Homo sapiens: one gene and its partners. The protein of the gene in region 1 interacts with the protein of each later gene in a pairwise test. Each region holds a gene or a part of one and is shown on either strand. Other genes may lie near its edges.

Evidence for each region.
Region 2: the proteins of ANKRD46 (region 1) and TMEM45B interact in binary tests that used the Homo sapiens proteins (3 or more experiments, as listed by UniProt).
Region 3: the proteins of ANKRD46 (region 1) and CD22 interact in binary tests that used the Homo sapiens proteins (3 or more experiments, as listed by UniProt).
Region 4: the proteins of ANKRD46 (region 1) and GOLM1 interact in binary tests that used the Homo sapiens proteins (3 or more experiments, as listed by UniProt).
Region 5: the proteins of ANKRD46 (region 1) and SLC16A2 interact in a two-hybrid assay, tested with the Homo sapiens proteins (one large-scale study listed by BioGRID).

The regions. Positions count from the first base shown.
Region 1 is NC_000008.11:100,548,193-100,554,844, reverse strand, and holds part of ANKRD46 (ankyrin repeat domain-containing protein 46), read left to right. Parts: intron 1-3,111; exon of another isoform or gene 3,112-4,305; intron 4,306-6,652.
Region 2 is NC_000011.10:129,850,348-129,853,847, forward strand, and holds part of TMEM45B (transmembrane protein 45B), read left to right. Parts: intron 1-202; exon of another isoform or gene 203-257; intron 258-1,314; exon of another isoform or gene 1,315-1,445; intron 1,446-2,127; 5' UTR 2,128-2,135; coding exon 2,136-2,313; intron 2,314-3,500.
Region 3 is NC_000019.10:35,333,800-35,340,451, reverse strand, and holds part of CD22 (B-cell receptor CD22 isoform 1 precursor), read right to left. Parts: intron 4,417-6,652; coding exon 4,111-4,416; intron 2,698-4,110; coding exon 2,431-2,697; intron 2,285-2,430; coding exon 2,021-2,284; intron 1-2,020. UniProt on the Homo sapiens protein: Most highly expressed siglec (sialic acid-binding immunoglobulin-like lectin) on B-cells that plays a role in various aspects of B-cell biology including differentiation, antigen presentation, and trafficking to bone marrow.
Region 4 is NC_000009.12:86,077,836-86,084,487, reverse strand, and holds part of GOLM1 (Golgi membrane protein 1), read left to right. Parts: intron 1-5,146; 5' UTR 5,147-5,167; coding exon 5,168-5,296; intron 5,297-6,652.
Region 5 is NC_000023.11:74,423,150-74,429,801, forward strand, and holds part of SLC16A2 (monocarboxylate transporter 8), read left to right. Parts: intron 1-6,652. UniProt on the Homo sapiens protein: Specific thyroid hormone transmembrane transporter, that mediates both uptake and efflux of thyroid hormones across the cell membrane independently of pH or a Na(+) gradient.

The DNA of each region.
Region 1 (6,652 bases):
GGCCAGGCTGGTCTCTAACTCCTGACCTCAAGTGATCCACCTCAGCCTCTCAAACTGCTGAGATTACAGGCATGAGCCACTGCACCTGGCTAAGTACTTTTTTTTTCCTTGTGTTTTTTTGAGACAGGGTTTTGCTCTGTTGCTCAGGCTGGAGTGCAGTGGCACAATCATGGCTGAATGCACCCTCCACCTCCCAGGCTCGAGTGATCCTCCTGCCTCAGCCTTGAATATCTGGGACAACAGGCACGCACGCACCACCATGCAAGGTTTATTTTTAAATTTTTTTTGTAGAGATGGGGTTTCACACTATGTTGCCCAGGCTGGTCTGGAATCCTTAGGCTCAAGTGATCCTCTTGCTCCAGATTCCCTAAAGTGCTGGGACTATAGGTGTGAGTCACTGCACCCAGCCAAGTACTTTTTAAAATTAAACTGGTAAACAGACATTAGAATTACCAATGTAAACTTTATATCTAAAACCAAAATCAATTACAAAGGATCATTATTTTCCAAAGTAGATACTTTTTTTTAGTGCTGTTCAGTTTTTCTGAAGCTTATCTTTGTTCACAAGGATTGTTAGCACTTCCACCAAATCAGTGTTTAGAAACCTTAAATAATTTAACGTCTGACTTGCCAGTACATTATTAGAGAAACAATTCCAAGACCAAAACATGTTGAATAAGCAGGAGATATACACCAATTTGATTTTAAAATGGACAGCTTTCCTGTCTCTGGCTCTCTCTCATGTTGCCTTAAACACACATATGCTGAAGAAATCATATACAGATACTTGCATGCATTTAATAAACTATCCAATAAGTGGTGCTTTTAATAAATTCTGAATACAATCAATTAAAAGATTTGTGCACATTATTATTTAGGTATGGTACCAAGTAAATCAGAAACAAATGCAAGAGCACGAATGGTTTATTTAGCTACCTTTCCATATTGGGTCTTGATGACATTAGATACTCTGCTGTATTTTATTTTTTAAAGTAAACATATTAAAACTAGCCAAATAACCTATATTTTCTTTTATTACATTATGATGCCTTTTTTGGTTTGCCTGAGTTTTTTTGGTTTTTGTTTGTTTGTTTTTGAGATGGAGTTTTGCTCTGTCTCCCAGGCTGGAGTGCAGTGGTGCAACCTCAGCTCACTGTAGCTTCCGCCTCCTGGGTTGAAGCGATTCTCCTGTCTCAGCCTCCCAAGTAGCTGCGACTACAGGTACATGCCATCACACCCAGCTAATTTTTGTATTTTTAGTGGAGACGGGGTTTCACTATATTGGCCAGGCTGGTCTCAAACTCCTGACCTCAAGTGATCTGCTGTGGCCTCCCAAAGTGCTAGGATTACAGGCATGAGCCACCACACCCAGCCTGCGTAAGTTTAATTAAAAAAACAAAAATATTCTGAGTGTGACTTTGTTGAAACAGTTTATATAGGCATTTTAACTTTGGTGGCAGTTTTAGTCCTACTATCAGTCATCTTTTTTCCAGTAGCCCAGCATTGCTGCTACGTTAATTTAAATCTGCCCCTCTGCCCTCTCCTCAGTCTTTTGGCTGTATTTTGCCCATTGGCTGTTAATGCTGATTTTTTTTAAACACAACAAAAACTGTGGATTGCTTATAAAAGTTTTCCCACAATAGGCTTATTTTTATTTCACTTGTTTATTCAGAATATCCTTTCAACTTGTTTTTCGGTTATCTCCTTGGTCAGTTCTAGAATTTACCAAGCTCTCAGTCAGTGTTCAATCTCCTGTGCTGAACATGAGATTTCTTAGGCCTGGATTCAGCTCCTTCTCAAAGAGAGTTAAATATCAGTGCACTTCACCCTTTGACCTTTGTCTTTTGCTGAAACATGTGCCACAAACCATATTTTTTTCCTTTTTAGGAAGCAATGACAGAAGCATATAAGAGTGGAAATCAAATAGTAATGACCACTTCAGATTCTGTGTCATTTAGATATTTTGTTCTAAGTAACAGAAAACCTAATTTAAACTGTCTTAAAAAGATCCTTTATTGATACCCGTAATAGGAAAAGCCCAAGGCTTGACCCTTTTATCTGTTCTGCCTCACTCTGTATACTTGCTATCTATGAAATATAAAAATGACAAAAGCAATTTTAGGTATCTCATTTATACACCATAGAAAAATAAAGTGAATGTATTTCTCTGGCATTCCAAGCAAAGAGTTTTATTGGACTGGTCACTTGCTCACCTTTAAATAAACCACAATAGCTAGGGAATGTGATATGTTACATGGCCTTAGATAATAAAGACTGACCCCTCCAAAGCATATGAGCAGTGAAGAGTAGTGGAGTTGGGTACCAGTGGAACAGGTAGGAATGGAGTCTAGGTAGACAGGGGACATCTGAGGAAATTAAAAACACATAGTTGATTTTCAGTCAAAATAATATATTAAATTCATGTTTGGGCACCTGGCAATAACTGATGTTAAAAAAAAAAAAGCGCCAAAGTATAGTCAGAATAGTAAATAGGATAACCATCTCTATAGAGTACAAGCACAAAGTAATGAGTGAGGCTGTAGCTGTTTTGGAATTGGCCAAAATGGAAATCATCCAATATCTGATCTCAGACGAAAAGGAATTAAATTACAATTTGATAACAGAAAGATAGCCGGAAAATCACTGAATACTTAGACATTAAATAACACATTTCTTTTTTTTTTTTTTTTTTTTTAAGACAGAGTCTCACTCTGTCACCCAGGCTGGAGTGCAGTGGCGCGATCTTGGCTCACTGCAACCTCCACCTCCCAGGTTCAAGCTATTCTCCTGCCTCAGCCTCCCGAGTACCTGGGACTACAGGTGCACACCACCACACCTGGCTAATTTTTGTATTTTTAGTAGAGACGGGGTTTCACCATGTTGGCCAGGCTGGTCTTGAACTCCTGACCTCAGGTGATCCGCCCACCTTGGCCTCCCAAAGTGCTGGGATTATAGGTGTGAGCCACAGCACCCAGCCCAAAATGTTTTCAAAAGACATATATGATGAAGACTGTTATCCAAAATACACAAAGAACTCTTAAAACTCAACAAAAAGAGAGGTGGGTATGGGTGCTGGCTGAGGTCACTCAGTGCTGACCATCCTCTTCTCAAAGCCATGTCTCTAAGACATCATGGTGAAGGTGAAGGCCAGAGTAAATAGATTTGGGCCATATTGGGCACCTGGTCACCAGGGCTGCTTTTAACTCTAGTAAAGTGGATATTGTCACCATCAATGACCCTTCATTGACCTCAACTACATGGTCTGCATGTTCCAGTATTTCTACCCATGGCAAATTCCACCACACCGTCAAGGCTGAGAATGGGAAGCTTGTCATCAATGGAAATCCCATCACCATCTTCCAGGAGCAAGATCCTACCAAAATCAAATGGGGTGATGCTGAAGCTGAGTATGCCGTGGAGTCCACTGGCATCTTCATGACCATAGAGAAGGCTGGGGCTCACTTAATGGGGGAGCCAAAAGGGTCATCATCTCTACCCCCTCTGCTGATGCCCCCATATTCATAATGGGCATGATCCCTGAGAAGTCTGAAAACAGCCTCAAGATCATCAGCAATGCCTTCTGTACCACCAACTGCTTAATCCCCCGGCCAAGCCCATCCATGACAACTTTGGCATTGTGGAAGGACTTGTGACCACAATCCATGCTGCCACTCCTGCCCAGAAGACTCGATGGCCTCTGTGGGAAACTGTGGCATATGTCTGTGGGGCTCTCCAGAACATCATCCCTGCATCTACTGGTGTTGCCAAGGCTGTGGGCAAGGCCATCCCCGAGCTGAACAGGAAGCTCACTAGCATGGCCTTCCGTGTCCTTCTGCAAACGTGTTGGTTGTGGACCTGACCTGCCATCTGGAGAAACCTGCCAAATATGATGACATCAAAAAGGTGGTGAAGCAGGCGTCAGAGGGCCCCTCAAGGGCATCTTGGGCTACACTGAACACCAGGTTGTTTCCTCTGACTTTAACAGTGACACTCACTCTTCCACTTTCGATGCTGGGGCTGCCATTGCCCTCAGTGACCACTTTGTCAAGCTCATTTCCTCGTACAACAGTGAATTTGGCTACAGCAACAGGGTGGTGGCCCATATGGCCTCCAAGGAGTAAGACTGCTCGACAACCAGCCCCAGTGAGAGCACAAGAGGAAGAAAGAGACCTTCAGCTTCTGGGCAGTCCCTGCCATGCTCAGTCCCCCACCACACTGGGAATCTCCCCTCTTCACAGTTTCCATGCAGACCCCACAAAGAGCTCTATCTTGTCGTGTACCATCAATAAAGTCCTCTGTACTCAAAAAAAAAAAAAAGATAGAAAATGAACAACCTGATTTTAAAAATGAGCCAAAGATCTTAATGGACACCTCATCACAGAGGATATACAGATGGCAAATAAACATATGAAAAAGATGCTCCACGTCATATGTCATCAGGGAAATGCAAATTAAAACAATGAGATCCCACTACACACTTACTAAAATGGCTAACTAAAATCTAGAACGCTGACAACACCAAATGCTGGTGAGAATGTGGATTAACAGGAACTCTTATTCATTGCTAGTGGGAATGCCAAATGGTACAGCTACTTTGGGAGACAATTTGGTGGTTTCTTAAAAAAACTAAACATACTCTTACCATCCAGCAATCATGCTCCTTGGTATTTACCCAAAGGAGTGAAAAACTGTCCACACAAAAACCTGCATGTGGGTGTTCATGTCAGCCTTATTCATAATTGCCAGAACATGGAAGCAACCAAGATGTCCTTCAGTAGGTGAACAGATAAACTGTAATACATACAGAGAATGACATATTATGCAGTCCTAAAGAGAAACTATGAAGCCATGAGAAGATACAGAAAACACGTATTATGAGGGAAAGAAGCCAATCTGAAACAGCTGCATACCGTATGATTTCAGTTATATGACATTCTGGAAAAGGCAAAATTATAGAGACAATAAAAATATCAGGGGTTGGGTAGAGAGAGGGATGAATAGGCAGAGCCCAGAAAATTTTTAGGGCAGTGAACCTAATCTGCCTGATGCTATAATGATGAATACATGTCATTGTAAATTTGTCTAAACCCATAGAATGTATAACACCAAGAGTGAACCCTAATGCAAACTATGGACTCTGGGTGATAATGATGTGTTAGTGTAGGATCATCAGTTATAACAGAGGTACCCTCTGGTGGTGGCAGGGTGGGGGAATATGGGAAATCTGCTCAGTGTTGCTGTGAACCTAAAACTGGTCTAAAAAATAAAGACCGTTTTAAAAAAGATAAAGTAATAAAAAATATGCTCACAGCTCAGTTGTGATACTAGTAATGCAATTTTTATGCAAAATTATGCTTTTGAAGAAATCAGAATTCTCAATTTTTTGGTGATTATTTAAATTTTCCTCATTTTTATATGGTTTCTTTTAAAATGTTTCACTTTTTTCCCTGATTTATATTAGAATGGCAATGTATGCTTAACACTTGTATTTTTATAAGTTTATGAGTTTTTAATGTTCTGAAATGTTATTTTTTACTTCAAATGTGTTGAACATTTAACTTGTTAAAACATTCCAGGCTGGGCACAGTGGCTCACGCCTGTAGTCCTAGCACTTTGGGAGGCTAAGGCAGGAGGATCACTTGAGCCCAGGAGTTTGAGGCCAGCCTGGGCAACATAGTGAGACCCCATATGTTTTAAAAAAAAATTCTGAACTAAAAAAAAAAAAAACAGCATTAATGCTAGTATTCCATATTATATAAAATAAGTGTGAAATACCCAAATTACTTTTTTTTTTCATTTCTGGGTAAATCTTTAAAATTTTTTTAATTAAAAAAATTTCTTATTTCTAAAAATCTTTGTGGATACATAATAGGTGTATATCATATTGCATTTCTATCTAATATGTACCTGCTTATGGGAGGAGTCAACAAATGTTTATTATTTCTAAATATTCCTATTTCTCAGACATTAAAAGATGTTCAAGAAGTAGTCATATGAACGTGATTTGATTTCTTTTTAAATGTAATATCAGTTTTATTGGTACCCCATTTTTGCTATACATTTTTAGTTTAGTTATATTTTTTGTCCACCTTCAGTGAATGCCTTCATTTTCATTGTCATTACTTAAGCATTTATACTGACTTCCAGACTCCACTGAAAGACTTGTTTGAATGCATACTTTACGTTTGGACCATCCATTCACTTAACAGAAAAGATACAGGTTGAGCACTTAGTGTGTAATAGGTAATGCGAAATACTGTGGATAGTGTGGAACAAGACAACTCATGCCCTCAAAGTTTACTTTCAAACTGAGGAGATGTACAATACATGATTAAGCACATAAATAAGAAAATTATAGATTATAATAAGAACACGAACAAAATAAGCAGGGTGATGTGAAAAGTAATGTGGGGAGAAGTAGGTGACATTTGAGCTGAGACCTGAGTGATTCTCCATCCAGGGAAGTACATTCCAGCAGGAAGAAAAGTAAGTGCACCTCTGAGGCAGGAAGGAGGCAAGTCAGGGGTAGAGTATAGAGAACAAGAAGGGGGAATGGTTAAAGATGAATTTGGAGAGGTAGGCAGGAACAAAATTATCAGGGCTTTGTAGCCTGATAATTTATCCTTTATTAAGGATTTTGGCTGTTGTTTTA
Region 2 (3,500 bases), on another chromosome or scaffold:
AGAGACAGGGTTTCACCATGTTTGTCAGGCTTATCTCGAACTCCTGACCTCAGGTGATCTGCCTGCCTCGCCCTCCCAAAGTGCTGGGATTACAGGCGTGAGCCACCGCACCTGGCCTCTCATGTTTTTCTATAAGCAGTTAAGAGAAGCCACACAGCATCCTGAACACTTTGCTTTCTATCTCTTCTGCCAAATATCCTAGGTCATCATTCTTAAGTTCTGCCCTCCATGAAGTCCTAGGAAACGACATAATTCAGGTAAGTTCTTTACCACTTTCTAACAAGGATAACCTTTCTTCTAGTTTCCAATACCTTGTTCTTTATTTCTGTCTGAGACCTCATCAGAATTGCCTTCACCATCGGTATCTCTATCAACATTCTGTTCATGACCACTTAGGCAATCTCTAAGAACGAGGCTTTCCCCACAGCTCATATCCCACATCTACAGCTCTCCTCTTCTTCTGAGCCCTCACCAGAATCATCCTTAGTGCTCCGTTCATGGCAATCCAGGCTTTTTTCAGCACTCACTTCAAAGCTGTTCCAGCTTGTATTCATTATCCAGTTCCAAAGCCACCCCCACATTTTTACATATTTGTTATAACCCCTGGTTATAAATGTTATAAACTCCTCTGGTACCAATTTCTGTCTTAGTCCCTGTTGTGCTGATATCACACAATACGCAGACTGGGTAATTTATAAAGAACAACAATTTATTTCTCACTGTTCTGAAAGCTGGGAAGTCCAAGATCAAGGCAGCAGCATCTGGTGTCTGCTGAGGGCTGCATCCTCACATGCAGGAGGACAAACAGGGGACCAGCTCCCTCCAGCCAACCCCTGTATGAGGGAGGGCATCTGCTCCTAGTTCAGGAGGGAGGGGCCCTCATGGCCTAGTCCCTTCTTAAAAGTCCTCTTCTCGGCCGGGTGTGGTGGCTCACACCTGTAATCCCAGCACTTTGGGAGGCCGAGGTGGGCAGATCACCTAAGGTCAGGAGTTCGAGAAAAGCCTGGCCAACATGGTGAAACCCCGTCTCTACTAAAAATATAAAAATTAGCCAGGCGTGGTGGCGGGTGCCTGTAATTCCAGCTACTCGGGAGGCTGAGGCAGGAGAATCGCTTGAACCTGGGAGGCAGAGGTTGTAGTGAGCCAAGATCGTGCCACTGCACTCCAGCCTGGGTGACAGAGTGAAACTCTGCCTCAAAAAAAAAAAAAAAGTCCCCTTCTCTTAATGCTATCACCTTGGCAACACCTGGATTTTGGAGGGGACACATTCAAACCACAGCAATCACCAACAACTGGTATTTTTCTCCCACCCTACATATTCTTTAGGTAACCACCCAGGCCAGTGGGGAAAATAATCAATCTACTTCTGAATAAATCCTAGCTATAGTTTCATGCTACTGCAAATGGGATAACAGCAAATCATGCCTGAAAATTTTTGGAATAAGGTGATGTTTACATCGTTATGCTGATTTTTACAAACTGTGAATCATATTGACCAGGTTCATTTGTACTAGACCACCACACCAAAACTTTATAAAATTATTTTCCAGTTGGGTGAAAAATGATGTTGTGCTTTCGTTTGCCCATCTCTAATTTCCGGGAGATTTATAATTTGTTTGTATTATTTTGTGAATCATCCGTTCATGTCTTCTGCCTATTCTTCTACGGTCTTTTTCTTATCAATTTGTAAAGACTCTAATGTAATAGCCAACTGCTACAAGCATGTTTCTGATTTGTTGTTTACCTTTTGATGTTCTTGATATTAAAAGATGCTTATATAGCTGAACGTTTTTCTTTTCTAGTTCCCCCCTTTATGTTTATGGCTTGGAAGTTTTCTCTATCTGAGATCAATAAATATTACCTATCCTCCTCTTTCCCCACCCTCATCCTTTTATTTTACCCACATGTTTAAAGCATTACAGACAGTGGAGTCCAGTTGGTTATGCAACTCACTTTACAGATGAGACTTCAGTGACGTAACATAAGGCTTGTTTTATGAGAATGTGTTGATCCTTCTTAACGTGGCTTATGATTTGCAATCTCAGGCACGTATTGTGTTTCCTGCCAAAATATACATTTGTTTGCTTGCTTCATTAGCCACCTAACAGCCTTCCCCTAATTTTTTAGGTGTCCTGATGGCAAATTTCAAGGGCCACGCGCTTCCAGGGAGTTTCTTCCTGATCATTGGGCTGTGTTGGTCAGTGAAGTACCCGCTGAAGTACTTTAGCCACACGCGGAAGAACAGCCCACTACATTACTATCAGCGTCTCGAGATCGTCGAAGCCGCAATTAGGACTTTGTTTTCCGTCACTGGTAAGAGCAGGGGTCATTTGGTCTAGGGAATCTCCTCATCATACCCAGAACCTTTAATTCATTTTCTGAGCCCTGTGAAATAGATGTTCCCACTGGCAGAGATAATAGGGCAACAATTTCCTGATGGCCACTAGACTATTTTATCGTAACATCCATTGTGTACAGAGCTTTATAATACTAACGGTTGACAGCTCTCACATCATGGGACACTGTGAAAAACTCAAATCAACAAGGACACAGGTATGGAAAGTTGTAGGAGCAAAACACCCACTGTATGAAAAAGATATGACACAAATAAAAAGAGAAAAAAACAAAATAGATTAGGCTCACGTACCTTAGTTGTGACAAAGTAGAAAAATCACCTTTTTTCCTCAATTGTCTCTCCCTCCAGATCCTTACAGTAGTTAACACCCAACCCACTGGCTTATCTTCATCCTCAAGTCTCAAGCGCTTATAGAGAGTTTATGTAGATTCGTAAATTAGCCAGTGGGAGAGAAAAAGCAGCAGAGGGCTGTTGAAGAGGAATTTTCCTTCACTCTGCCCCATTCCAACAAGATCCACCCACTCCCACTGTTTCCTTCGCATCCACTCCGCTCCACTGCGGCCCTCCAGGAACAAGCAGTGATGACAGTAACAAGTGTTCTTCCTCAGGACCAGCCCCACCTGGGGGGAATGAGGGGTCTTAATCTGCAACTGACAATTACCACTTGTCATCAGTGGCCTATGGCTTCTTGGAGAGAGTGAAGCAACATCGCTTCTCTTGGAGGAAGCAAAGCTTCACAGGGCTTTGTTGGTCTCATCCTGCTGAATGTCCCCACTCACCATTCAGGCATCAGAGAGGCCTCCCGTGAGAAGTGACAGGGACCTGTGGCTTAAAGGATCAGGACAGCATCAACCTTGCCTAAATAAAGCTAGGACAATTACAATATTTGGCCCCTTGACTGGGTGAAAATGGTACTCATTCAACAGCTCTCTGGCACTCCTACCACAAGCCAGGAAGTCACTGTTCCAGGCATAGGAGATACACTGGGGAACCACACAGCCGCTGCTGTCACAGGGCTTCCATTCTAGTGTCACTGGGACTTTTCCTGGGTCATTTCCACAACTTCCTGACTCTGTGTGTGGGAATTCAAAAAGGGTCTGGCTTGAGAAACAAGTATCTGGGAAACGGAGTCCAAAATGTCATC
Region 3 (6,652 bases), on another chromosome or scaffold:
AATTAGCTATGCATGCTGGTGCATGTCTGTAGTCCCAGCTACTCAGGTGGTCGAGGCAAGAGAATCGCTTGAACCCGGGAGGTGGAGGTTGCAGTGAGCCGAGATCAAGCCACTGCACTCCAGCCTGGGCAACAGAGGGAGACTCCATCTTAAAAACAAGAGGCAGTGCGGGGTGGGTGGGGGGTGAGTCCTGAGAGTTCCTAACCTCCTGGGAATTGTTTCAAGAAGGAAATGAGATGACTCCCTTAGAGCAGAGTGTGGCGTGTGGCAAACACTCCACAAACATCACTGTGGCTGCTGTGGTCACGCATCCAGCTGTCTGAGATGCTCAGGATTTGGGCACCCCTGTCCTGTTAGCACATATGACATCTCAGGGTCCAAGGATCGAGCTTATGTGTTCTTTTTGTCCTGTGCTCTACATGGTAACAAGATTCACTGTGTTAAAAGGGTCTTACAATGGAGAGGTAATGAGACAGTTTGCCCCAGTTCTCATTAAAAATTTCAAGATCTCTCAAGACTCAGCCACTGCCTAGGGACGCTAAGTCTCTGTGTCCCTCATGGAGTCCTGGTATCTTGCAGTTAATTATTCTTTTTTTTTGGAGACAGAATCTCACTCTACCCAGGCTAGAGTGCAGTGACATGATCTCAGCTCATTGCAACCTCTGCCTCCTGGGTTCAAGCGATTCTCCTGCCTCAGCCTCCCAGGTAGGTGGATTTCAGGTGCCTGCCACCATGCCCGGCTAATTTTTTGTATTTTTAGTAGAGACAGGGTTTCGCCATGTTGGCCAGGCTGGTCTCGAACTCCTGACCTCAGGTGATCTGCCCACCTTGGCCTCCCAAAGTGCTGGGATTACAGGCGTAAGCCACCATGCCTGGCCAATCCATTCTTTTTTTTGAGACAAGGTCTCACTCAGTCACCCAGGCTGGAGTGCAGCGGCATGATCACAGGCTCACTGCAGCCTCTACTTCCAGGCTCAGGTGATCCTCCCACCTCAGCCTCCTGGGTAGCTGAGACTACAGGCATGCATGACCATGCCAGGCTAATTTTTTTTTGTAGAGATGGGGTTTTACCATGTTGCCCAGGCTGGGCTTGAACTCGTGGCCTCAAGTGAGCTGCCTACCTTGGCCTCCCAAAGTGCTGGGATTACAAGTGTGAGCCACTGTGCCCAGCTCACACCTATAATCCCAGTCCCAGCATTTTCTTTTTCTTTTTGAGACCCAGGTCTTGCTCTGTCACCCAGGCTAGAGTGCAGTAGCAGGAACATAGTTCAGTCTGCAGCCTTCACTTCCTGGGCTCAAGTGATTCTCCCTCCTCAGCCTCCCCAGTAGCTGGGACCACAGGCACGCACCACCATGCTCAGCTAATTTTTGTATTTTTTTGTAGAGATGGTATCTCGCTGTGTGGCCCAGGCTGGTTTCAAACTCCTGGGTTCAAGAGACCCTCCTGCCTCAGCCTCCTAAAGAGCTGGGATTGCAGGCGGGAGCCACCGCACCTGGCCTCATTCATTCAACAAGCATCTACAGGCCGGGTGCGGTGGCTCACGCCTCTAATCCCAGCACTTTGGGAGGCCGAGGCGGGTGGATCACGAGGTCAGGAGATCGAGACCATCCTGGCTAACACGGTGAAACCCCGTCTCTACTAAAAGTACAAATAATTAGCCGGGCGTGGTGGCGGGCGCCTGTCATCCCAGCTACTCAGGAGGCTGAGACAGGAGAATGGCATGAACCCGGGAAGGTGGAGCTTGCAGTGAGCCGAGATTGTGCCACTGCACTCCAGCCTGGGAGACAGAGGGAGACTCCATCTCAAAAAAAACTAAAACACAAAAAAACAAGCATCTACCAAGCACCCTCCATGAGCCAGGCCCTATGCTAGGAGCTGAGACAGCAGTTGTGAACAGGAGACCCTGGCTGCTCCTTGCTCTTGACTCCAGGACCCCGGAATGCCCTGCACCCCATCTGCCTTCCCCGTTCCCTGTGTCCATCTTCTCTCCCTAGAACCAGAGGCTCCGTGGCTACTCACACTGGACATCCAGCTCAGCTCCCGGGCCCCTCTGTCCAGTACCAAGAATGTTTTCTGCCACACAGGAATAAGTCCCAGCGTGCCAGGGGAGGATCTTTGGGATGTGGACTTTCTCCTCTGTCCTTCCCTGCATTTCTTTCCCATTGTGGTACCACGTGTAATTTGTTGGAAGAGGATTGGCCAGTGACATGCAAAGAAACTCGACTTGACTTCCCTCCACAGCCGGTGAGTGGAGGATCTGAACCGTGGAAGGTTCCGGGGCATCTGGAAGAGGGGGCAGAGGCGAGTGGAGGGGTGAGGAGAGCACCCCCAACCTGTGCACACGGCCCCGAGAGCCCCCGTGGCTCCCCTCTCCGGGTCCACCCCTGCTACCTCCCTGCCTGGCCTGTCCCCAGCTCCGAGGGGCTCACACTGCACTTGCAGGAACACTTCTTCCGACCTTCCCGGGCCCACGTCATTGGAGACCTGACAGCAGTACTTCCCACTCTGGTCCTTGGTCACTTCGCGCAGGTTTAGCGTGAATGTATTCTGCTTCTTCAGCGAGGTCCCATCCTTGAGCCAGGATACCGTCGTGTACTCCGGGTTGCTGCTGCTGACCTCGCAGGTCATGGTCACAGAGTCCCCCTCCCTCACTATGGCATCACTGGGAGTGACCTTGATCTCCAACTTCGGGGTGTCTGGAGGAGCAGAGGGGCAGTCGGGGAGGGGGCGGGGAATCCTCAGAGGGTGGAGGGTGTGGAAAGTGCTTTTATTCTGACAAAGCCATGGCCTGCCAGTCCCTTCACCCAGGTGATGGTCACAGCCTCCTAACTCGGCTCTCAGCTTCCCCCTCCCACTTCCTCTACTTCTTGGTCTCCACCAGCAGCACGCAGGGTTCCTAACACCATCTACCAGACCTCGCCAATCCTGCTGGAAACCACGAGCGGGTTCTGTGCTTTGCATAGAATCCCAAACCCTCACCTCAGCCCTCGGGATCCAGAGTCCTGCTCCATCTCCTGCCTCCTGTCCTACCATGTGGCCCTCAGAGGCGGTGAACTTCAGCCTCTGAGGTCCTCCCACCCAGCTGCTGCCTCAAAGCTTTGAACCTGCCCTTCTCTTTCCCTGAAATCCTCCTCTCCCAAATATGTGCCGGCCTCAGCCACTCCCTCCGTTCCAGTCAGCTTAAGTGCTCACCTTCTTTTTTTTTCTTTTTTTGAGATGGAGTCTCACTCGTCACCCAGGTTGGAGTGCAGTGGTGCGATCTCAGCTCACTGCAAGCTCCGCCTCCTGGGTTCATGTCATTCTCCTGCCTTGGCCTCCCAAGTAGCTGGGACTACAGGCGCCTGCCATCATGCCTGGCTAATTTTTTGTATTTTTACTAGAGATGGGGTTTCACCATGTTAGCCAGGATGGTCTCGATCTCCTGACCTTGTGATCCCCCCGCCTCGGCCTTCCAAAGTGCTAGGATTACAGGCGTGAGCCACCGCACCCGGCCTAAGTGCTCACCTTCTTAGAGAGGTCTCTCTCCATCACTCCCCTCTCTCGGCCTTATTTTTTTCCTAACACACATATCACTACCTACAATAGTGTTGTATATTTCTTTGTTAACATTGCTTTGTTCCAGATTCTAATGTCTTGGCTCATGCTCTGTATTTCTTTGGTAATCCATTTGTTGTCTGTCTCTTTCACTGCAGCGCTGGCTCCGCGTGGGGCAAGAGTTTTGCTCACTGCTGCACCCTGCCCACCGCCCCATGCCCCCCATTGGCAGCCGTAATAAGGCCTGGTACCTAGTAGGTTCATGATACGTATTTATTGAATGAATGAGGCACAAGATAATGATGCGAAAAAAATCCCCACCAAGAGGGGAACAAAAAGACCTAACCAGATAATCCCCAATTCATGTCATGGCTTGAGGATGGACCATTTTATTCTGTTAGGCTAGAGCAAATCTTTTTCCCGAAACACCAGGGCTGACAAGGCGGCGTGACCAGGGCTGGAGGATGCCGCCGTCTGTGCAGGCTTCCCCCTGCCCTGGGTGCATGCCCCCTGCGGGGCTGGGGAGAAGGTGACACAGACCTTGCCCTTCCCACAGGCATGCCGGGGAGACTCACGCTTCACGTTCAGCTGCACCGTGTCATTGGAGAGGAACTTCCCATCTGCATCCTGAAGCTGGCAGGTCACAATCTTCCCATGGTGACTCCACTGTGGGGAGAACTTGAGCTCGCTCCGGGTGAAGACAGACTTGATGGTCAAGGAGGTCGAGGTGACAGCAGCCTGCCTCATTGGAACCCCCTCTAGGAGCCACTGCAATTGGATCGGATACCCATAGCAGGAGAAATTCAGCAAGCAGGTCAGAGTGACTTCCTGGGACTCTTGAATTTCTGGAGGGAGCTGGATATGAGGTGGAAAAGGCCTTTCTGCAAAAGAACAGAGCCCGTGCAGGAGCCTGGGGGACTGAGGACGTGAGCGTACACCTGGCTTTAGATGTCCTGTCCCAAATCACCCCTCAGGAACCCCTTGCCACTTCATTCCACCTCTCTCCAGTCCTGCTTTGTTTTTTTGTTGTTATTGTTGTTGTTGTTGTGTTGTTGTTTTTTTGAGATGGAGTTTCCCTCTGTCACCCAGGCTGGAGTGCAGTGGCGCGATCTTGGCTCGCTGTAACCTCTACCTCCCCAGTTCAAGTGATCCTCCTGCCTCAGCCTCCCGAGTAGCTGGGATTACAGGTGCCCACCACCACACCCAGCTAATTTTTCTGTATTTCTAGTAGAGACAGGGTTTCGCCATGTTGGCCAGGCTGGTCTTGAACTCCTGACCTCAAGTGATCCTCCCGCCTTGGCCTCCCAAAGTGCTGGGATTACAGGTGTAAGCCACCACACCCGGCCTCTTTTTTTCTTTAGAGACAGGGTCTTGCTTTGTCACCCAGGCTGGAGTGCAGTGGCGCAATCCTAGCTCACTGTAGCCTCAACCTCCTAGGCTCAAGCAATCCTCTCACCTCAGCCCCCTGAGTAACTGGGACTACAGGCATGTGCCACCACACCTAGCTAGTTTTTTAAACATTTTGTAGAGACAGGGTCTTGCCATGTTACCCAGGCTGGTCTCAAACTCCTGGGCTCAAACGATCCTCCGATCTCAGCCTCCCAAAGTGCTGGGGTTACAGGCGGGAACCACTGCACCCAACGCAGTCCTGCTTTTCTCCACTTTGAATCACTTTTGCTCACCCGAAATCCCCTCTGAAAGGCCTTGACCACACTAAGCCTCCTTGGGAACTGTGATCTACTTTTCTTTCATGCTCATTGCCGGATGTCTGCTTTCTGAATGATTGCAAAGTTCTATTCCCACCACCTCACCACCTCTTTTTTTTTTTTTTTTTTTTTTGAGACAGAGTCTCGCTCTGTCGCCCGGACTGGAGTGTAGTGGCGTGATCTCAGCTCACTGCAAGCTCCACCTTCCGGGTTCACGCCATTCTCCTGCCTCAGCCTCCTGAGTAGCTGGGACTACAGGCGCCTGCCACCACGCCTGGCTAACTTTTTGCATTTTTAGTAGAGACAGGGTTTCACTGTGTTAGTCAGGATGGTCTCGATCTCCTGACCTTGTGATCCGCCTGCCTCGGCCTCCCAAAGTTCTGGGATTACAGGCGTGAGCCACCGTGCCCGGCCTATTCCCACCACCTCTAAGTGAATTTTATCAGTTTAGTTCACGGACTTTTCAGCTTTGACAAACTTGTGTTACTTTCATGGCTTCCTTCAGTATTGCAGCCATCCACGCACCGCATTCCTTTAGTGGAGTGGGTCTGTGTGCACCCAGCCTCAGCTCTCCCCAAGGCTGGACCACCTCCTTCAGACAGCGGGGTCTGAAGTTGCATTGCTCACCCCAAATTTAAGGCTGCTCAGAACTGCCCATCCGGGAAACGGTGTGGAACGGAGTGACCACACTCCCTGTGGCAGGGGCCCCCCACACCTGTGTTTGATGGGTCAAAGCCACCCCTACATGTGCAGTGCTATAACTGAACCTATGTTATAAAAATTATAAGATGTTCGTTTTACTTCTTTTCTTTTCTCTTTGTCCTTTCCTTCCTCCATGCATGATTAGTTACATTTGGTCATTTCAGTAGCAGGTAACCATTAATTCACTCATAATTGTTTAACTTACATCCTGACTCCCTGGCAGCTGCCTGCAAGATAAATGAACTTGTCTCTCTTTCAAAGAACAATGATCCTTAGGTCACACAGACCTCCTTGATGACATCCAGAAATTTGATGAGCCGAGGGGCACAACAGCTTTGACGATCGGGAGGTCACCTCCTGCACACCTACTTTACTCATAAAAGCCCCCACTAACGCTCAAAGTCAGGTCAGATTTGAGAGTTTCTCTCTTCTGTCCCCTTGCTTTGGCTAAATTAAATAATCCTATCTCAGCTTCTAAGCACTGAGGTGTCAGTGTTTGGCTGACTACGCATCGGGAGCTCAAACCTGGCCTTTGGGGTTCAACAACAGTGTCATCTGACCTTGAAGAGCTCATGAGAACTTGCCATGAACATTAACATGCTGGGAGATTTCACTGGAAAATCTAGATTTCCATCGTCTCTTGAAAAATCAGAAGATCAGGCCGGGTGCGGTGACTCATGCCTGTAATCCTAATGCTTTGAGAGGTTGA
Region 4 (6,652 bases), on another chromosome or scaffold:
ACTTCCTCTGAATTTTCTCCTGATAAGATTGAGGTTATGTATCCCTGGCAGGAGGCTGTAGAGGTGCCGTGCCCTCCTAGTGCACCATATCAGGGGGTATGTGATGTCGATGTGCCTCATTATCAGGGATACCAAGCTTGAACATGTGGCTAAGGTGGCATCTGCCAGAATTCTTCATGTAATAGAACTGTTTTTCCCTTTGTAATTTGCCAACTATTTTGGAAGAGAGAAGCTCTATCAATATTAAAAACATACATTTTTGACCCAGAAATAGATCCACAGAGATGTGATTTATTTCATCTCCTGCAAAATGGGGATGATAATGCCCCCAAAGCTGATACGAGCCCCTGTATTGAGCAGTGCCTCACAACAGTAAGCTTGCTGTTGGTTCATCTCAAGCTCCTTGAGGCCAGCTAGGTTTGGAACTCAGGACTTTTTTCAGAATTCAGATAACATTGGGCATTTATTATATATTATGTGACAGCCCCAGGAGGATCTAGGACAGCACCGCATGCTCAAACACTCATCTTTCTGCAGTGAAATGTATGAGCATTCACATGAAAGGAGGAAGATAAAGACTATCAGTAGCTTCAGATAAGTTCTGATCAGACCTTGATCTCAGTTCAGGTTTTGTTGCTGGAAAAGTTTTTAAAACTTTCTCTGAGTTTTTAGAGACCGTTTTGGATTTCAAAGTTGTGAATAAGGGACTGTACACATAGGTAAGAGTTCGTAAACACAGAGATGGATGTACAGTTCCACATCTGCAGATTAAACTAGCTGTTCAAAATGTACTTAAGCCTGGCTGGGCATGGTGGCTCATGCCCATAATCCCAGCACTTTGGGAGGCCGAGGCAGGCAGATCACTTGAGGCCGAGAATTCGAGACCAGCCTGGCCAACATAGTGAAACACTGTCTCTACTAAAAGTACAAAAAAAACTAGCTGGGTGTGGTGGTGGCCACCTCTAATCCCAGCTACTCAGGAGGCTGAGATGGGAGAATCCTTTGAACCTGGGAGTCGGAGGTTGCAGTGAGCCAAGTTCGTGCCACTGCACTCTAGCCTGGGTGACAGAGCAAGACTCCCATCTCAGAAAAACAAACAAAAATTAGTTAGGCCTACTGTGGTTGCATCTGTACTGAACATGTATAGACTTTTTTGTGATTAGTTCCTAAACATATGGCTTAACAGCTAATTACATAGCATTTATATTGTACTAAGTATTATAAGTAATCTAGACATGGTTTAAAGCCTAGAGGAGGATGTGCCTGGGTTGGATTCACATAGTATGCCATTTTATATAAGAGACTTGAACATCCTTGGCTTTTGGTGTCCTCAGGGGGTCCTGGAACCAATCCCCAGTGAATACTGAGGGACAGCTGTGTAAGGTTGTTTATGGTAGCATTGTTGGAAATAAGCCTGGAAAACCTTGACTGTTTCTCTGTAGGAGATCAGTTAAGCAGATCTTGGCACACAGTGGTGCCCTATTCAGCCCTTTGAAAAGAATGGAGCAAACCATAATGTGCTACTAAAAAAGGGGAGGCAAGATGTGTTACTAAGAAATACACAGCATTTACAGAAGAGTGTGAATGGTGTGATCTTGTTTGGATTAAAATAAATATATTGATGCTTATATATGCATCTAGAAACATCTAGAATAGCGGCTATACATATGAATCACCTGGGGAGGTTAAAAAATACAAATATCCGGGCCTTGCCCTAAACCCCATTGAATTAGAAATGCAGGGCTGGGGGCCAGGTGTGATGGCTCACGCCTGTACTCCCAGCACTTTAGGAGGCTGAGGCGGGAGGATCACTGAGCCCAGGAGTTTGAGACCAGCTTGAGCAACATAGTGAGACCCCATCTCTACAAAAATAGAAAAAATTAGCTGGGCGTGGTGGCACACACCTGTAGTCCCAGCTACTTGGGAAGCTGAAGTGGGAGGATCACTTGAGCCCAGGAAGTTGGGGAAGCTGAGGTGGGAGGATCACTTGAGCCCAGGAGTTGAGGCTGGGATCACACCACTAGGCAGCTATTTCAGCCTGGGTGACAGAGTGAGTGTGTCAGCCTGAGCAACAGAGTGAGACCCTGTCTCAAGAAAAAAAAAAAAGGAAAGAAAAGAAATGCAGTGGTGGAGCCCAGGTATTGATATTTTAAAAAGTGTCAGGCTGGGCACGGTGGCTCATGCCTGTAATCCCAGCACTTTGGGAGGCCGAGGCGGGCGGATCACAAGGTCAGGAGATCAAGACCATCCTGGCTAATGGGGGAACTTCGTCTCTACTAAAACTACAAAAAATTAGCCAGGTGTGGTGGCAGGTGCCTGTAGTCCCAGCTACTCGGGAGGCTGAGGCAGGAGAATGGCATGAACCTGGGAGGCGGAGCTTGCAGTGAACCTAGATCACGCCACTGCACTCCAGCCTGGGCAACAGAGAGAGACTCCATCTCAAAAAAAAAAAAAAAAAAAAAGTGTCCCAGGTGATGCTGATGCCCCTTGAGTGTTGAGGACCACTGGAACAGAAGGACCCAGATGTTAGAAAATGTTATCCCTTTCCTTTGGAGTAGGATGAGGGGGATGTAATTTATCCTTTTTTCTTTTTTTTTTTTAATCAGAGTCTCGCTCTGTCGCCCAGGCTGGAGTGCAGTGGTGTCATCTTGGCTCACTGCAAGCTCCGCCTCATGGGTTCAAGCTTTTCTCCTGTCTCAGCCTCTTGAGTAGCTGGGACTACAGGCATGTGCCACCATGCCTGGCTGCTTTTGTATTTTTAGTAGAGATGGAGTTTCACCACGTTGGCCAGGCTGGTCTCAAATTCCTGACTTCAGGCCATCTACCTGCCTTGGCCTCCCAAAGTGCTGGGATTACAGGCATGAGCCACTGCACCCGACCAATTTATACTCTACTGTGTGTAGTTTCCTATTTTTTCCTTAGCAAAAGCCATTTGGAAAAGTCCCTGCCACCCCCTCTTGTATTTGTACTTTTATATTTTAAAAACAAGGTTAGCTGGGCACGGTGGCTCATGCCTATATTCCCAGCACTTTGGGAGAACGAGGCAGACGGATCACCTGAGGTTGGGAGTTCCAGACCAGCCTGACCAACATGGAGAAACCCCGTCTCTACTAAAAATACAAAATTAGCTGGCCGTGGTGGTGCATGCCTGTAATCCCAGCTACTCGGGAAGCTGAGGCAGGAGAATCGCTTTAACCCGGGAGGCAGAGGTTGTAGTGAGCTGAGATCACACCATTGCACTCCAGCCTGGAAAACAAGAGCGAAACTCCGTCTCAAAAAAAAAAAAAAAAAAATCATTGAGGCTGGGTGCACTGGCTCATACCTGTAATCCCAGTACTTTGAGGGGCCCAGATGGGAGGATCACTTGAGGTCAGGAATTTGAGGCCAACCTAGGCAATAGTGAGACCCTGTCTGTACAAAAATTGTTTTAAAAAATTAGCTGGGCATGGTGGCCCATGTCTGTAGTCCCAGCTACTTGAGAGGTTGAGGGCAGGAGGATTATTTGAGCCCAAGAGTTTGAGGCTTCAGTGAGCCACAATTGCGTGACTGACTCCACCCTGGGCGACAGAGACCCTGTCTCTAAAATAAATAAACAAAAATTTTAAAAAGTTTAAGAGTCAAAAAAGAGACTCTTGTGATCAAGAGTCTCTTGAGTATATTCAGTGCTTGCTGATATCAGCTGATAATTGAAAGAAAAACGTGGTTTCCCCTTTCATCCTGAGAGGCCAGAAGCTGGTAAGACATGAGCACAGGTCAGAATTTCCACCCGTGGGAATTCTGGGGGTGCTTTATTTTAGATGATTCGGCTAGATTGCTTCTTTATCCCCTGGCAGGCCCCCATACTAGTAGCTAGCTGTTAAGAAAAAAGAAGCCTTTTGGTGACCCACCTGAAAAGACCATAGGGTGAGGATCAGTTCTCCCATGTTCTCACTGGTGAGAATTGGGTTTTGCAGGTGAATCCTTGGTGGTATCCTCTTCCTTACCCGTCCCTTGTCTTTTTTGCCCACCATCCCCTTTCCTCCTCTGTTGCTAGACACCCCTGGTGTAAAAGGCTCTCTGTGCTCAAAGGCTGTTTGTTGCAGTGCAGCCACGCTCACTCTGATAAGGTTCTGTTTTATCTGGCTTGGGAAAAGCCATTTGGAAAAGTCTACTTTCCTTGTTCCTAGAGACCAGTGCTTGCATCCAGGCAGACCTGGCTTTGAATTGAAGCCCATTAACAAAATTTATGGCATCTTTCTTCTAAGCTGTATTTTTGTGCACTCTGTAGCTCTCACACAGAGGCACTGTTTTTCCTAACATGAGGTGTACAATGCAGCAGTTGCACAGATACGGTCCCTAAAGTGAGAAATGAATGTTCGAAAGAAGGTGCTCTCGTTTGGCATGGAGTGAATGCCTTGTTTCCACCTCAAATCCTAAGATGGAACACATTTTTCCTGGTGACTTCAGGCAGATGGCACACCTCCCACTTCCGTTGTGTGTCATGAAGGAGGAGACACTTCTATAGCCAGGGCTGTGCCTGAATAATGATGTACATGGGGGGGAGTTCACATTCACCTCCAGAATGGGTTTCCTGCTTTGCTTGAGAAATGCTTTAATTGGGTGTCATTAGTAATCCTGTCAAGGGTAAAAAAAACCTCCCTTGTTAGGAATCAAAGCAAAAAGCTCTCTCTGAGGAGTAATGAGGAATATACTCTTTCTAATATGATGCGGAAGCACTTAATATTTGTTATTGGTGTTTACAGAAATGATTACTTCTCAAACATTGCTGCTTACAGAAATGATTAATTCTCAAACTATGCCGGGAAGGTGAGTATGGTAATGATTTTACAAGGGAGGAATCTGAAGTGTAAGAGGAATCATGTCTTGCCCCAGGTCTCGAGCTAATCTGTGGCAGGTTTCGGGGCGGTGCCTGCTCCTCCGAGCCTGTCCTGGGAACTGGCCACACTGCCCTGGGTTCACAGCACCATGGGCTCTGTGCGTGCCGTTCACATACTCTTCTCCCTTGACAGCTTTGCACGTCAAGGAGAAGCTACCAGCCCACGCTTCTTGGCAAGACTCCTTTCCTCTTGGTTGTAAGGATGATACGGTCTGCTTCGGAGATGATAAAACTAGTATTGATGTTTATTTATTTGCTTTTACTTGGCAGATTCTCAGCGCTGATTTTGAGATGATGGGCTTGGGAAACGGGCGTCGCAGCATGAAGTCGCCGCCCCTCGTGCTGGCCGCCCTGGTGGCCTGCATCATCGTCTTGGGCTTCAACTACTGGATTGCGAGCTCCCGGAGCGTGGACCTCCAGGTGTTTTGTTTTCTTTATTGTTATGTTTATTTTATGTTTATGTTTTGTTTATTTTGTTATGATGGGGTCCCAGGGGTTTGTTGTTTATTGCCAGCCAGGGCGTTTTGTGCAGGGCACACGCTTGTAAGGTGAGTTTAGGGCTCTGCACACCCCCACAGCCCTGGGCCAGACCCCAAGCAGCTTTGGGTGGGAGAGGTCCCCTCTGTGGTTGTGTAGGATTGCGGTTGTGGTATCCCTCCCTGCCTTTCCTGTGAGTTAACAGCATTCATTTGAGCTACTGGGGTGGTTCTGGGAAGACAGCTTGCTTACATACACTGGCCATAGTCCGTTGTTTGCGGTCCTCCGGCGCCCAAGATATCGAAGAGTAGTATTGGAAGTGTGCTTGGATGATGGGTGTAAGAAATATGTTTTTAAAGGTACCAATCTTTATCTTCATTACTTAATGATAATAATAATTTTAACTTCCTCATTTACCGGTGCAGTCATGGGTCAGGTGCAGTGCTGAGCAGTGACAAAGATGCTCCTCTTGATTGAACTTGAGTCGGGCCCTTCTGAGCCGTCTTCTTGACTAGGCCTTGATCTTGGCACCTCCCAACTCTCACTGCCTGTCTTTGGCCTGCCCAGCCCAGTCCTAGCAAAGGATCCCGCTAAGCCATCCTTCTACCCCTGATCCTTGACCAAGTTCCTCATCCCTACCCTTGCTGTCTAAGTCCTTGGCCTGTGTTTAGCAAGAATCTTGTTAGGCCAGTTTAGCAAGAATCCCCCTACTCTGGGGGCGATTTCCATCCACTGACTCCCCGCACTGTGCTCGTTGGCTATAAATCCCTAGCTGTCTTTGATGTGTTCGGCATTGAGCACAATTTCCCTCTCCTATTGCAATCGTTTTGAATAGTCTTTCTTACCATTTTAATGAATGTCAGAATAATTTCTCTTTCACAGTACTTTATACAAATTATCTCCTTTTGTGCACAAACCCTACAAGGCTGGGACTTGACTTTCCTCATTTCACAGGGGGTCAGACTGAGGCACCAAGAGGTTGAGGTGGAGCAGGGATTCCAACCTGCATGGGCTTAGCCGTGGCACCCCAGCACGTCTGTGCTCTGTCCTGTTCTCACACTTACCCTCCTGGGCTTGTACTCCCTGTGTCTCAGCTTCCACGGGAGTTCCTGTTCTCTGGGCAGATGAGGTCTGCTTGTCTGGAGTTGGAGAACTGAATCTGTTTTCAGAAATTGTATCTGCTAAAGAGTTGTTAAGTGCTTTGTTAGCAGCGAAGAAGAACTAAATATTTGAGCATCATCTTATGCCAGGTAAAGCATGAGGCATTCTGTGCACTTAGCACATTTAAGCCTCACAAAA
Region 5 (6,652 bases), on another chromosome or scaffold:
CTGGTGAGGGATTCAGACGAAGACGGGGGATTGGGATGCCCTCTCTGGCAAGGCTTGCTCCCTCTCGTGGCTCCTCAGGACAGCTCGACTCTTGCCACCAGCCCCAAGTTCACAACTCAGAATATGTGGCTTTTCGCAGTGTTGCCCTCGGACTGAGGAGTTCCATCCTCTCGCCAACCTCCAACCCCCACATATTTCTACTGCCATTTGAGGGGACCTGGGAATTATTAAGTGAACATAGAAACCTTGAATTCTGGAGTGTCCACCTGTGGATTCCCTGGGCCCTCTCCAGGACTTGTGGTTTTAGTTTGCAGCTTTGCTGGACTTCCCTGGCAGAAGGGGCTTTGGGGATCTTGGTGCCTCAGACCTTGTGATCCATTGGCACAGCAGCGGTGTGCAGGCCCCGATGAAGATAGTGCGTCAGTGGTTGTCAAAGGAAGTCTCTTGACTACCCAGGCCCACTGTGATGCTGGAATGGAGGGGTCCTGGGACAGTGTAGAGCAACTTCTGCGGGGAAGATGGCTGCCACAGTCACCCCTGGGACCACCTTTTTCCCTGCTTTGATGCAGTTCAGGGGCTCCTGGGAAAGCAGGCAGTGTAGGGACTCATGCTGTTGCCTAGGTTACCTCCAAGGGCACCTGCTGAGCATTGCCCTGTGGTTGAAGGCAGGCTGTTGGCCTTCAGGATCAGTGAGTGGCAAAGTCTGAGTGAAACTTGATGAGAAGCAGTAGAGGCTAGGCTGAAGCTAGGCCCTGGCATTTATATGGTGTGAGGAGGCCTAGAGCTGTGATCTTAGGAGTGTATAATAAAACTTGGAAAAACCACTATTTTACCAGGAAGAGGCTCACTGCTGGGGAACAGACTTCAAAGTAGGTGATCATAGGGGACTCAGGGGGAGGGCTGGCTGGGACTTTCCGGTCAAGACCTCACAGTGCAGCTAGAGGGTGGGGGTGGTGGTGGGGGTGCAGTTGGCTATGCAGAGGTGTGGCTAGTGCATACTCTGACACAGACCAGGTTCACTGAGGGGCTGAGGTCACTGGTTTAAATTATAGTGAGTATAGGTCAGGAAGAAACAGAAAGGAATTTGGTATGTCCCTAGGGTCTCAGAATACTTTGGCTTGGGTCCTTGCTGTGGTGTATCTTGAACTCACTGACATTATTTTTTATACTAGAGGTTCTTAGGGACACCACAGTTTTTATTTTGGAAAAGTCAGGAACACCCTATCACATGGAGCTCCTAGAAAATCTCATCCTCAGTACTACCTTTGCTGAGCTCTTCAACTTTCCCAAGCAACCATTCAGATCCTGAGATTCTGAATGTCTTTGCCTGCAGACACTTTCTGCTGTTTACTCAAAATTTCCCAGCCGTCTGTGCCACAGCACTGGTGTCTCAAAGGGATAGAAGAAGCTAATAGAAGTTTGTGTCATTTTTATCAGCCAGTATTTGTCCAATAGCCATTCTGGGAGAAACAGAATGTACACCCCCACGCTCAAGGAATTTGGTGCATCGTCCATTTTTATTAATATCTGACATGACTTCCATCTCTAAGAGTCTATGAATTTGGTGTTTGGAGGCACCTCGTAACCCAATTTCTCTTTGACTAGGCCTAATATCTTCACAGACCTAAAGCTGTGTTGAGTGGCTTAATGGGTGGAAGGTCCTGCAGATGATTGGGATTGTTGTGAGGAAGCCCCACAGAAAGGTAGTTTCTTATACTTTATTTTTAGAGATGGGATCTTGCTCTGTTGACCAGGTTGGAGTGCAGTGGCGCAGTCATATTTCACGACACCTTCAAACTCCTGGGCACAAGCAATCGTCCCACCTCAGCTTCTCAAGTAGCTAGAACTACAGGCATGCGCCACCACACCTGGCTAATTTTTATTTATTTATTTATTTATTTAAAAACAGACTCTTGCTATGTTGCCCAGGCTGGTCTCAAACTCCTGGCCTCCAGCAGTCCTACTGCCTCAGCCTCCCAAGTAGCTGGGAAGAAAGGTAGTTTTGATGTTTGAGGAACAGCTCCACATCAGAGTGCCTCTGGGCATGGGAAAAAGCCACAGAAGTTAGAAGGGATATGGGATTCAGGCCTTACTAGAGCATGCAATGTGCAGTTTTTGTGGACCCTTTGATGTATACAGTTTTGTGGTGTCACCAGCTGTATATCTTATCCCCTCTCTTCACCAGTTTTGGAGGAAAGCCAACTTTCCCTGGGTCCTAGGCTTGGGTGGATTGGCAGGCAAAAGGTCCCTGAGAGGGAGGCAAGTGATCAAACTCTGGTTTAGTGAAAAAAGGAAAAAGATCAGGAGGGAAATGAGCCTGTATTTCTTGCCAAGATCATGGGAAATTTGTGAGTTCCCCAACCCAGACCAAACAGCAGACAGGACAGGAGGCAACCAGGCAATTCTGTGGAAAGTAAAGGCCCAAGCATAGCTTCTTGGGGTGGTAGGGAAGCCTTTTGGAGGAAAGAGGGGAAAGAGAAGCAAGACGCCATTGATTGTAGGCCCCAGCTCAATATTGGGACCCTAAGTGAGTTGGACCTGCAATAGGGTTAGGGTTGGGAGTTCAGAGGACAAGGCAGAACAAGCCAGAGTTGCTAACATTGGCTCTATGCTTAAGTCTTTTTAAAAGTACTCCAGAGTAAAACTTGACTGCCGGTCCACCATTGAGCCAAAAAATATGGAAGGCATTTTTGTTTTACTGGGCAGTTTATAAGCATGGTCCTTGTAAGCTCCCAAGGGGGGTCAAGGCTGAGGCTCTCATCACCAGAGAAAGGGACAATGGTCAGGAAGGTTCACTACTAGGCACAAGATAGTTCAGGCTGATGGTCCACTCTGATGGAAACAGAATTTTCTAGGCATGGGGAAGAATGATACACTCTGCCTTTGGGTGAACCAAGAGTCCCAAGGTTGGGTGGGGCCAGGTAGAGTAGGCTGTCTTTCTCCTTCTCACCTTAGGGGTTTTCATTGCTTGGTTCAGTGTCTCACTGGACTGTAACACTAAATTGCTGACTTTGGGAGCAAAGTGTATTTTGAGCAAATCTGCCAATCTCTTGACTTCAGCTGAAGGCTCTTGACTACTGTCCAGCAGAGCTAGATCAGGTTGGCTTAGCGCCTGCTGTGGTGCTTCAAGCCACACAGCCCTTGGCCAGGCATCTCTCACGTCATTCCCCTGCCCCCTTTCCAACCAAATGGGATCTTGAACTATGACCATGACTGATACTGAAAGGGATGAGAATAAGAGATTGGGTCATTTGGAGGCCAACCAGGAGGATGCTTGTTTGAGTTGGGGTAGCTGGTTGAGGCTGGATGCCTGGATCACTGTACAGTGGCCTCAAATGCTCATTCTAAGTCTAAAAAAGCAAGACCCAGGGCCAAATCTGGACTCCCCAAAGCTGGCAGTCTCAGTGATACCAGCTAGGCAGTAACTGTGACTTAGACAACTTGTGCCCCTAACTTATTCTGTGACTTTGGACAGGCACTTCACCTCTCTGTATGTCAGTTTATCTATCTATAAAATGAGAGGGTTTGACTAAATAAACTTTCTAGCCCTACCATTCTATCCTTCTAAAATTATGTGATATCTTATTCTTTACTATTCATATGTCATACATTTTGACTCATTTAAGTAAATAAAAGTTCGTTAAGCTGCCTGAATGACAGTGAGGATGGATTGGGAGAAGATTGGGAAAGCAAGGAAAAGCCCTATATACATCATTTCCCCACGTCATTTGTATTTAAAGACTATGGGGCTGCCCATGGGTATAGATGTGTTTAAAAATTACCCAATCCTTTTTACCTAGTATGTAAGGGCAACCCTGCATGTGGAGCTGCTTCTTCCAGAGTGTCCTGATTGGTATAGAGCTGGGTCTCCAAGAGAACTCCCTGGATTTGGCAGGCAAGCAGGGTGGGTCTGTATGCTGCTGTTTTCCAGCGTTTGAACCTGTTCCTCAAAAGTATTAAATTATAAACATTTCCTCAAGCCTCAGTTTGGACCCCTCTTCTGAAACTGAATTTCCCACAGCACAGTCTTATTTCTCAGAAATGCATAGTCAGTGTGACCTTGGTTTGCTGTTACTTCCAGCTAGCAGAGGAAACGGATTCCTAAATGAGGTTCCCTTCAGAGGTCTTCAAACAGGGCGTTTTGATAGCTGGCTCAGGGCCACTGCCTGGATCCTGCTGTGGTGGGGTTGGGGAGGGTTGCTACTGTGATCCTGGAGAAGGCCCATTAGATGCCCACAATCCCTGGTCAACTGCAGCGTCAGGGCTTAGCTGAGAGTGTGCCTACGGAAGTAGCAGGCACAGAGCTCTCTTTCCTTTTCCTTGGAAGTCATTGGCCGTATTGCCTCCAGCCCATGAAGAGTAAACAAGCAGCTGGACTGTCAACATTTGTAGAAGTATATAAAGGATGCCATATCAACCTTTTGAGCAGACCAGTTTCCCAGGAAGATGCACTGCTTTTCCCACCAGCCTCATTTTATGGTTTTGTTGCATTTTGAAAAGATGAAAACTACTCTTTTCAGATTGTGTGAATGACGGAGTGGGATTTCCTGTCTTGAAAGGTGTTGTCTCACTTGAGATTGAATGAATGAACCCTAGAGAAAAGGCTTTGTTCTACACATATACACATGTGCGCAAGCGCATGCGCACGCGTGCACGCGCGCGCACACACACACACACACACACACACACACACCCATACCCTACACCCTAAGCCATAGATTATGAATATTCCATCTGAAATAAGTCATTTCCCATCTGTTCATGGAATTAGGTGTACCAGAGGCTTCTGTAAAGATTATGCTGTACTAGTGCAAAGGAACCAGACTAAGAAGCTTGCTAGGCGAGAGTGATGAAAAGAGTATGGCCAGCCTGGATTGTACCTCTTGAACTGGACCCATTTGCAACTCCCCAGCAGTGGGGCTGGGAAACTTTATTGCAAGTCTCTTTCTCCCTTCATCCTCCTGTATCTCTCCCAGTATTCAAATATTACTGGGAAGCGGGTTTAGGCAACCCCAGCTCTCTCTGGCTTTAGGGGTGACAGAAGACTAAACCTAGAGAGATTTCATCACCTGCCTGAAGCTGGGTGCTATGGTAGATAATGTGAAATCGCTTGACACCTCCTTGTGGATGGGGAATGTGGCCTGTTTGGGTGGCTTGAGGAAGTGCAGCCTCTTCACCCTAGGAGTCTCACCCTCTTTTATCCTCAACTTCGCTCCAGTTTCCAGCATTGGTGGGAGAAGGGATGAAATTGGCTGTCCCAATCACATATTTTCTCAGCTTCTCCTACTTTCACAGTGCATTTTTTATCACGTTTGCTATATGTGCCATACCCTTTTTTCCCAGTATTGTTCCCTCTTTTCTTTTTCTTCCTACTGCTCAGTTAGAGGAACAATTGGGGTTTGGGATGTTGTATAGGCCCAACTCCTGCCAGAGTCACAGGCCCACTCCTACACATCCTACAGAGGCCTCCCTTCCCCCTTTCCCCTTCCTTTCCTCTCTTACTTTCCACTTTCTGGGTGAAGGGTGACTTTCGATGGAGCACTCAAGAGTGTGGAAGCCATCACCTCTGGATTTTCGCATAAAGATAGCTGCTATGACACCCTTTTTGTCACTTCTACACCTCTTTCCACAGCCCTAGTAACCCAGCTCAGAAGGTAGTATTGTAGAAAGTCTTACTCAATAATATTCAACAAATGTCGTCATTACTTGTATTCCTTTCTTTTCAAATCCTGACTATCATTGTCCCCCATCTCCTGGGCCAGCTGAACTTCCAGAGATTTCATACTGGTTTTTGGTAGCTTCCGTGTTTCTGGTTCATTCTATTTTGAGCCCCTGACATCTATTTTCTTGCCAAAACTGCTGCACAATTGGTTGTAGAGGGGTCAGAGAAGGGAGAAGACAGACACTCAAGTCCTAACGAGAGTCAAAAGTGCCTTTACAGGAAGATTGCTCCAGCCCAGGAGGTTGAGGCTACAGTGAGCCATGATCACCACTGCACCTGTCTCAAAAACAAAAAGAAAGAAAAAGAAAAAAATAGGCCAGGCCCAGTGGCTCAAGCCTGTAATCCCAGCATTTTGGGAGGCTGAGGCAGGAGGATCACTTGAGCACAGGAGTTTGAGGCCAGCCTGGGCAACATAGGGATACCCCGTCTCTACAAAAAAAATTTTTAAAAACTAGGCTGGCATAGTGGCACATGCCTGTGGTCACAGGTACTTGGAAGGCTGAGATACTAGGATCTCTTGAGCCAAGGCGGTTGACGTTGCAATGAGCCATGATCACACCACTGCACTCCAGCCTGGGTGACAAGTGAGACCCTGTCTCAAAAAAAAAAAAAAAGTGCCTTCAGGGAGGGTGGAGGTGGGGGAGTGAAGCTCCCAGTTTAGTTGCTCTTCTGCTTTTACATGGCTGAAGGGGAAAAGAAAGGGAAATGTTGCCAAACAAGCAATGCCCATACCATCTTTTTCCTCAACTTAACCCATGGATCTCCTCACCTACCCGCTTATCCAGACTGGAAGGATATATGCATGCACTCATGTGTCCAGACCTATGTGTATGTGTGTACAGCAGGGTGTGTGATGTCTGTCCAAGCCGGTTAGCACAGTTACTTAGAACATGGTGCCTATGAGACTGAGGTCACAGGTTCAGTCACTTG